Linked DNA regions of Homo sapiens. The protein of the gene in region 1 interacts with the protein of each later gene in a pairwise test. Each region holds a gene or a part of one and is shown in the gene's direction. Other genes may lie near its edges.

Region 1 (5,557 bases):
TGCTCTGTTATGCAGGCTGGAGTGCAGTGGCACAATCTTGGCTCACTGCAACCTCTGTCTCCCAGGTTCAAGCTATTTTCTTGCCTCAGCCTCCTGAGTAGCTGGGATTACAGGTGCCTGCCACCATGCCTGACTAACTTTTTGTATTTTTAGTAGAGACGGGGTTTCACTATGTTGGCCAGGCTGGTCTCGAACTCCTGACCTTTTGATCCGCCCGCCTCGGCCTCCCAAAGTGCTGGGATTACAGGTATGAGCCACTGCGCCTGGCCGATTTTTTTTTTAATTAGCAATATGTGATGGTCATCTTTCAATAGAGACCTGATACTGCATTTTGTGTGATGCTTTTCTAAGACTCACCCCAGGTGGCAGTCTTTCCCTTTCACTTCTCCTTGCCACACACTTGTTGACAGCCTGGTATTGTCCTTTGGAGTATTTCCTCTGTGTGTTAATCAAATAGATAATAACACCTTATCCAGCAGCATCCTCCTCTGAGCCAAGCCTGTTCTTAGCGCTCTCCTCTCACCAACCACATGATCTCCAGGCCTTCAGAGGAGTGTGTCATCTGGATTTATAGGTGGGGCCTCAATGCAGCTGGCCCAAGTGAGGCAGGTGAACCAGTCCCAGGTCCTTGTGACACACATACCCTTCATGGGCTCGGGGTCATAGTTTACAAAATGAGATTTTCCCCTGCATGCTGGCCCCATGCTGCATTTTCACTCACCCATCTGGTGACCTGACACAACATACATCTTTCTCTTTAGCAGGTGTGTAACTTGTATGTGGAAGGACCAACGTAGCATTTGCCTCAGCAACATCCTTGAATCTGCACCCTCACCCACATCCATTCTTATCAGGTACCCACTATCCAAGGGCCAGTCTGATTTGCCTAAATACTGCTAGGTCGCCTTCTTAAGAGTATGAGAAACTCCACTTTCCCATGCCTGCCAGTTTAAAGTGTTGACTCCGTACTTGGCTATTACAGATGGCATAAAGTGTGAGCTCATTCCTCTTCATTCATTTATTCAACAAACAGGCCGGGTGTGGTGTTCTCAGGCCTGTAATCTTGACACTTTCGGAGGCCAAGGAGGGAGGATCCCTTGAGCCTAGGAGTTCAAGACCAGTCTGGGCAACACAGCAAGACCTCGTCTCTACCAAAAAAAAAAAATTAAGAAATTATCCAGGCATGGTGGTGCAACCTGTATTCCTAGCTACTTGGGATGCTGAAGTGGGAGGATCACCTGAGCCCAGGAGTTGGAGGCTGCATTGAGCTGTGATTGAGCCACTGTACTCCAGCCTGGACTACAAAGTGAGACCCCGTCTCTAAGAAATTAATTAAAAGTTTAAAAAAGTACATTGCCTGGCAATTTGTAATCATTAGCCTAGAAGTAATTAAAAAAAAAAAAAAAAGGTCGACCACTGATTACTCTGTTGGGCCTGCTTCTTGGTCTGCTGGTGCAGGAGAAAGGGATAGGATGAGAGCTGGGTGAGGCCAGGGCTGCTGCGGTGGGTGGGGCAGAGGTCTCTAAGAGTTGGATGGGGAGCACAGGCCAAGGGATAAAGGGCTGCAGGGCTCTGAGGAAAATCACAAAGTTTGGGGCATGCCCATAGGAGCCAGTGGGGTCCTGGGAGGACCTTGGAGCAGAGGACAGTCACTGTGTTCTCACAGGAAGGTAGATGGAGGGGCTGGGCAGACAGACGGTGCTGGGAGTCTGTCTGCCCAGATGGGAGCTGCCGAACATCTAGGGGTGGTTGTCATGGGGCAGGGAGGGCGAGATGGGCAACATGGTCAGGTTCTGGATGTGCTTGGAAGGTGAATAGAAGTGTGGGAGTGAAGAAGGAAGGAGGCTGATGCACAGGCTCACAGACCAAGCTGGGGGTAGAAATGATGGTAGAGGGGGTGCTTGGTTTGGGATGTTAAATGTCTGAGATGCTATGAGACACCCATATTGAAAGGTTGAGTCAGAGGGAAGGGGGATCACGAGCTCAAGTGTACCAAAAGAGCTACTGGGCTCAACTGACTTTTCAGACTCACAGGACAACCATGCCTAGCAGCAGCTTCTCGGAAAAGCTGGCCAGCATCATCCAGCAGCCATCCAGGGAGTACTGAGGTGCATAAACACAAGATGCAGGTAGGAGGAGGAGTTAGCCTAGTCGAAAGCCTCGTGGTCATACAAGCCAGCACCTCCTGTGTCAAGAGAACTGGCTGCAAGACCTGCTAGGGAGGCCCTGAATGTACTTCCTGTGGTTGTTCATCATTGAGTCACAGCCCAGGTGTGATTGGTCCGTAGAGAGAATGACCATCCACCTCTGCCAGGTTTCCAGGGGACCAGAGCTGTGCATTCACCCAAGGTCAAATTCGCATGCAGGGCTAGGCGCAGTGACTCAAGCCTGTAATTCCAGCACTCTAGGAGGCCAAGAGGGGCATATCACTTGAGCTCAGGGGTTCGAGACCAGCCTGGGCAACATGGTGAAACCCCGTACCTACAAAAAGTACAAAAATTAGCCGGGCATGGAGGCAGGTGTCTGTAGTCCCAGCTACTCAGGAGGCTAAGGTAGGAGGATCGCTTGAGCCTGGGAGACGGAGGTTGCAGTGAGCCTAGATCATGCCACTGCACTCCAGCCTGGGTGACAGAGCGAGATTCTGTTTCAAAATAAAGAAATGGCAGATCTGTGCGCTGGTGGGTGACCCATGGAAAGGGTCAGGGTGTGGCAGGAGAGAAGGCACTTCTGCCCTTGAGGGTAGGCAGATGTCAGACAGGGGGACCAGGAGCACATGAGGCCACTGTTAATGCTCACACTTGGTCTTCATCTTAATCCAAAATTGGTTATTGTTGGGCTGGGCGTGGTGGCTCATGCCTGTAATCCCAGCACTTTGGGAGGCCAAGGCGGGTGGATCACCTGAGGTCGGGAGTTCGAGACCAGCCTGACCAAGATGGTGAAAACCCATCTCTACTAAAAATATTTAAAAAATTAGCCGAGCGTGCTGGTGGGTGCTTGTAATCCCAGCTACTCGGGAGGCTGAGGCAGGAGAATTGCTTGAACCTGGGAGGCAGGGGTTGCGGTGAGCCAAGATCACCCCATTGCATCCCAGCCTGGGTGACAGAGCAAGACTTCGTCTCAAAAAAAAAAAAAAATTGGTGGCTGGACACGGTGGCTCACGCCTGTAATCCCAGCACTTTGGGAGGCCAAGGCGGGCGGATCACCTGAGGTCGGGAGTTCAAGACCAGCCTGACCAACATGGAGAAACCCTGTCCCTACTAAAAATACAAAAAAAATTAGCTGGGCATGGTGGCGCATGCCTGTAATCCCAGCTACTTGGGAGGCTGAGACAGGAGAATCACTTGAACCCAGGAGGTGGAGGTTGCGGTGAGCCGAGATCTCGCCGTTGCATTCCAGCCTGGGCAACAAGAGTGAAACTCTGTCTCAAAAAAAAAAACAAACAAAAAAATTGGTTATTGATGTATCCCATCTGGGTACACACAAGTTACTAAAGGAACCACTGATTTCCTGCTGAACTAAAATGTAACATTTTTGTTATCTTCCAATTTCCCACATACCTGTCTGGCTTCATCTGTTCCTCTGTCAACAACTTGTTGGTTTAATTGCAGCGGCTTCCTACCCACCCTTGGCTCTGATTCCTGGCAAGGCAGTCCCCACCCTCTGTTCTTTCCAGTTAAATTCTTGGCTATTCTCTAGCATCCATTCTTCTTATGAATTCTCAAGTAGTTGTAGTCATTCCTTTAAAAGACTTCTGTTGGAATTCTAATTAGAGTTGCATTGCGCTAACACAGAAGTGTGCTCACACACACATTTGGAGGGAATGGGCATTTTTGGAGAACAGCAGCACGGGGGAGGGTTGAAAGTCAGTCTCTCTCCAACTGTGTTTCCCTGTCCTGTTCTTCAGAGGCAGGCAGTTAGTTTATTGTGTATCTTCCTGAAAGTTGTCTGTGCAAATATATACATGTATCTGATGTGTGTTTTTTTTGTTTTGTTTTGAGACAGAGTCTCAGCTGAGATGATCTCAGCTCACTGCAACCTCCACATCCTGGGTTCAAGTGATTCTCCTGCCTTAGCCTCCTGAGTAGTTGGGATTACAGGCACCCGCCACCACACCCAGCTGATTTTTGTTTTTGTTTTTGTTTTGAGATGGAGTTTTGCTCTTGGTTGCCCAGGCTGGAGTGCAATGGCATGATCTCGGCTCATCGCATCCTCCACCTCCTGAGTTCAAGCAATTCTCTTGCCTCAGCCTCCTGAGTAGCTGGGACTACAGGCGTGCACCACCACACCCGGCTAATTTTGTGTTTTTAGTAGAGACGGGGTTTCCCCATGTTGGTCATGGCTGGTCTCGAACTCCCAACCTCGGGTGATCCGCCTGCCTCGGCCTCCCAAAGTGCTGGGATTACAGGCATAAGCCACTGCACCCGGCCTGATTTTTGTATTTTTAGTAGAGACGGGGTTTCACCATGTTGGCCAGGCTGGTCTCAAACTCCTGACCTCCGGTGATGTGCCTGCCTCACCCTCCCAAAGTGCTGAGATTACAGGTATGAGCCACCGCGCCCACCTATATCTGATGTTTTATAGACACTGAGATTATGATGTCCCTTGACTTCTGCCCCCAGCCCTGACACCTATTTTGTCACTCTTAAAGCACCCTGTTTGTTGTGGTGCCCATCTGAGCCAAGCATGTGAGGGGATTGGTTGCTTTGTTATACCACGTTTTTCTGGAGTGATCTACCACCTTTGGTCACCTGGTTGGTTTCTGTATCCCTGTCACAGTATCTTCTTTTTGATGCTCCAGAAGACTGCGAACCCTATCCTGTACAGGACCAAATGTGTCAGGAAAGCTCTTGCCCCGCTCCCCCTTTTTCCCAGCTGTTTGGGTGTGTGTCAGATACCTTTGCTTACCTTGTCCTGTTACGTTCCAGCACCAGCCCCACTACCCCAAGCATCCCCTTCTCACTTGATGACAAGTCTTCCTTCAGCTGCTCAGACCAGATCCCTAGGCCACTGTTGACTCAGTTTGTCCAGAACTGACCACTTCCATGCCTCCCCTTCAAATACCTGGTTGAACCTGGTGCCACATTGGGGCACTAGGGCTGCCTAAGGGTGGGGTGAGGGGAGTCTTATTGTCACCCTGGTGGCCAAGGCTTTCTTAATTGGGAGGGTGTTTGGGGAAGCAGCTTGGCCTGATGCCTGTATCCCCCACATGACTTGCGGACAGTCTGGTACTTGTGTGAGGGCCTCAGGTATAGAACACACAGAGCCTTGGTGAGCTGGTATCCTTGTGTATGGCAGGACCATGGGCCGGGACCAGGGTGCAGCAAGTGCCTTGCACCTGGTGTTCAGAGAGCCCAGTACTAGCTGGGCAGGCCCAGGAACTGTGTGTTCAGGGCCTGGACAGGCTCCTGAACCATAGGGTCAGAGTTCATGGGGGAGGCAAGGCAGACCAAGGCTGCAACAGTAGCAGCTCCTTGCACCTGACCTCAGTGTGCCCCTCAGTGACTCTGAATGAGGCCCAGGGATCCCCTGAGGGCCCCCTAGGAAGTTACGGTCTCAA
Region 2 (3,232 bases), on another chromosome or scaffold:
CACTGCCCCACAGACTGGATGCAATGAGGGGCTCACAGGAGGCCCAGCCAGCCCGATTGTGGGCTGAGGGGTCTGCATTCAAGCACGATGTTCTAGAATAGGAGTTTAACGTGTCTACGTAACCTAGAATGTGGTTATTAGGAAAGGGGCTGTGCATGTGGGTGCAGCTGGCGGCACACCTGGTCACCAGATGGCCAGAAGCTGCCCATCAGCCCTGCCCAGATGTCAGCCTGGGAGCTCAGGCTGCTGCCGCTGGCTGGATGCCCTTTGGTGAAATGCCTGTTTTCAGCTAAGAAAGGAGAGGCCAGGCAAGCAAAGTCATGCCACAAAGCATATCAGAGACCCCCGCAGACTCCTGGCCCCGTCCCGCCCCCTGTCTGAGTTGTGTTTTTGTTGCTGTTCCTCTGTTGATGGCCAGCTCTGCTGTTGGCATGAGCCACTGATGTTCATGTGAGAATTACTGTTTTTAAGTGTCTCTCCACTTAGGTGTCCTCAGTTCCCACTTTTGCTCTCATTTGCCTTCACAGAGGCCACTCCACCTGTCCGGATCCAGCTGTCTGGTCATGGTTTGGTTTATTTATTTTGTCCTTCAGGGGCTGTTTTGCCCTAAGAATGAGGGGGCTTCCCCTGGTCTGCAGTTCCCAACTTTATCCCTTGCTGGCCATGCGAGCCCAGCCCTGGTGCCTCATGGGATGGGGGGGTAGGGGTCCCCAGGATCTTCTGGAGGAAGGTGGCCATGGATGGATGGGCTGTATCTGTGTTTTCCCTCTGGGAGTCTCATGGGTCCAGCATCAGGCCTGAGGTCAGCAACAGGGAAAGAGGGTGGGCACGGGGAGGGCTTGGCCCCGCCTATCTAGAGGCTTGCCTCGGGCCCCTCCTTGGGGAAGGTTTGCGTGCAGAGCTGCAAGGGAGAGGGTTCCAGAAGCATTGCCTTTTGCCTCGTCTAATAGGATCCTTAGGACACTGTGGGCTTTAGGAATGACTATAGATGCTCACACGTGTTTAAAGTGACATTTGGAGATGCTCTCAGTCCTGTGGCATCTGGCACGAAGTCTCCAAGAAGCCACTTTGCCTCTTCTCCCTTCAAGCACAAGCTTTACTGCAAAAGGGCCAGTCGCGTTTCTATTTCTCTCGATCCCAGGCTTCTGCGGACCGACGATACGTTTAAATGTTGTTCTAGTAAATATTCTTGAATGTATTAAAATGGCTGAAACAACAAGCTTGGGCTTTTCTAGCTTGCCCTCCACTCCCTGCCGTCCCTCTGACGTCGCATAAACCAGAACCCAGCTCCCTCCTGGGACTGGCTGTGGAGAGAAGGGCACCTCTGAGCCAGCCTGTGGCCCTACCCCAAGGCGCACTTCCTCATGTGGGCAGATCCTGACCAGGAGTCCAGGGTGGCCTCCCCTGGGCCACAGCACATCACCGTGTGGCCTGGGGCTGTGGGACAGTGAGCCCTGTAACCACTAGGGTTCTGTGACAGATGCCAAGACCCCAGAGACCGTGGCAGAGCTACCCCCAGGAGAGCGGAAGCCCCTACACAGCCCAGACACATGCCTTCCCTGGGGGCTGGGGAGTGTGTCTCGAGGGGTTTTGTTTGTTTTGAGGCATGTATCATCTTGGAAATAATTGTCAGGATGTATAAAATAGAGAAAAAGAAAAAAGGTATCCTACCCAGAGGCAACCAGATAAACTTTTTTGCCTGTGCATTGTTTTTTGTTGGTTTTTTCGAGACGGGGTCGATCACGGCTCACCACAGCCTTAACCTCCAGGGCTCCAGCAATCCTCCCACCTCAGCCTCCTGAGTAGCTGGGACCACAGGTGTGTGCCACCATCTCCAGCAGTTTGTTTATTTATTTTTTCTTTTTTTTTTTTTGGTAGAAATGGGCTTTTCGCCATGTTGCCCAAGCTGGTCTTGCACTTCTGGGCTGAAGCAATCCTCTCGCCTTGGCCTCCCAGAGCCTTGGGATTACAGGTGTGAGTCACTACAGTGATTGTGAATGCACTGAGCTGGCCTGGAGAACACTTACCACCTTGTCCACGTCACATGCAAAAGGCCCATGGTGGTGGTGCTTCCTGCACACGAGGGCATGTAGTGAATGCCCTTCCCAGGTGGAGACTCCTCAGGGTTGGGAGCCCAGCAACTGCCTTGGCCCTGAGTAAGCCAGGAGTTGCACTGTGACCTGCAAGTGCTTGGGAGCTGCACCCCTGGGTGCCAACAGCTGCAGGTACCCTGGGGTGGGCAGTGGGCAACAGCTGTAGAGCTGGGAGCTGGGCGTGAAAGGACTGGGGCAGGACTGGGCTTGGACTCAGCTCCTCCCTGCTCAGCAGCCCCTTCGTTGTGTCCTCTGCTGTGCGGAAGGGGTTCTGCCCTAGTGGTCAGCAAGCATCCATGGAGCCTGCCGGGCGGGCCCTGTGTGCAGCGGCCTCCACACGTCAGCAGGGGACTGCCGTCCCTGCCAGCGCACCTGGGCCTTGTCCTGGGCAGCACAGACCCCTTAGCCACCACTCCCAGGTGGGGCGGTCACTCCCAGATCCTCCATCCGTCCCGCCTGCAGTGCAGCTGCCTTGGATGCTGATTAGGGTGGCCCTGAGGGGATCCTTCTGTCCCAAGTTACGGGCCTGCGGGGCCCGTCCACAGTGCTGTGCCCCTCAATTTGGAGCTGGCTCTGCTGCTTCCCAGGGCAGCACCTATGGGGAGGGCATCGTTTATACCTTGACTCAAAGTTCCAGGATCTCAGGGACAGCTTAATAGGTGGAAGGGGGAAGCTGTGAGATTCCAGGGAGAGTGGAGAGATTCCAGGGAGAGTGGAGAGATTCCAGAAGGATCCCTTACACCCCTCCAGCACCCTCAAGGGCCTGCGGTCCTGTGCCCAGACGCCACGCCCTGCCCCAGCAGCCCTGCCTGGCCAGCTCTATGGCCCCAGCCCCACGGGGCCGGCACTTCGTGCAACCTCGGGGTAGCCTGGGTTCTATTTTAGGTTGTCCCTTAGGTGAGGGACCGGGGCAGACAGAACCAGTCTCAACATGCTCGCAGCCACTTCCCCGTACATCAGGTGAGTGAGGACAGACTCCTGGGTTGCTGAGATTCGGGGATCTGGATTCTGGCAGGAGCTTTGACCCCAACAGGTCTGGACCTTACTGGGCATCTACAGGAGCTGGGCCGGGCACAAGAGAGGACTCCATCTCTCCTGCCTGACAGGAGAGGACTCCACCTGACCAGCCCTCTCAGGCT

The links.
Region 2: the proteins of ZNF250 (region 1) and SPECC1L interact in binary tests that used the Homo sapiens proteins (3 or more experiments, as listed by UniProt).

Annotation. Positions count from the first base shown.
Region 1 is NC_000008.11:144,890,440-144,895,996, reverse strand, and holds part of ZNF250 (zinc finger protein 250), read left to right. Parts: intron 1-764; exon of another isoform or gene 765-854; intron 855-5,557. UniProt on the Homo sapiens protein: May be involved in transcriptional regulation.
Region 2 is NC_000022.11:24,416,035-24,419,266, forward strand, and holds the end of SPECC1L (cytospin-A), read left to right. Parts: 3' UTR 1-1,704; downstream 1,705-3,232. UniProt on the Homo sapiens protein: Involved in cytokinesis and spindle organization. May play a role in actin cytoskeleton organization and microtubule stabilization and hence required for proper cell adhesion and migration.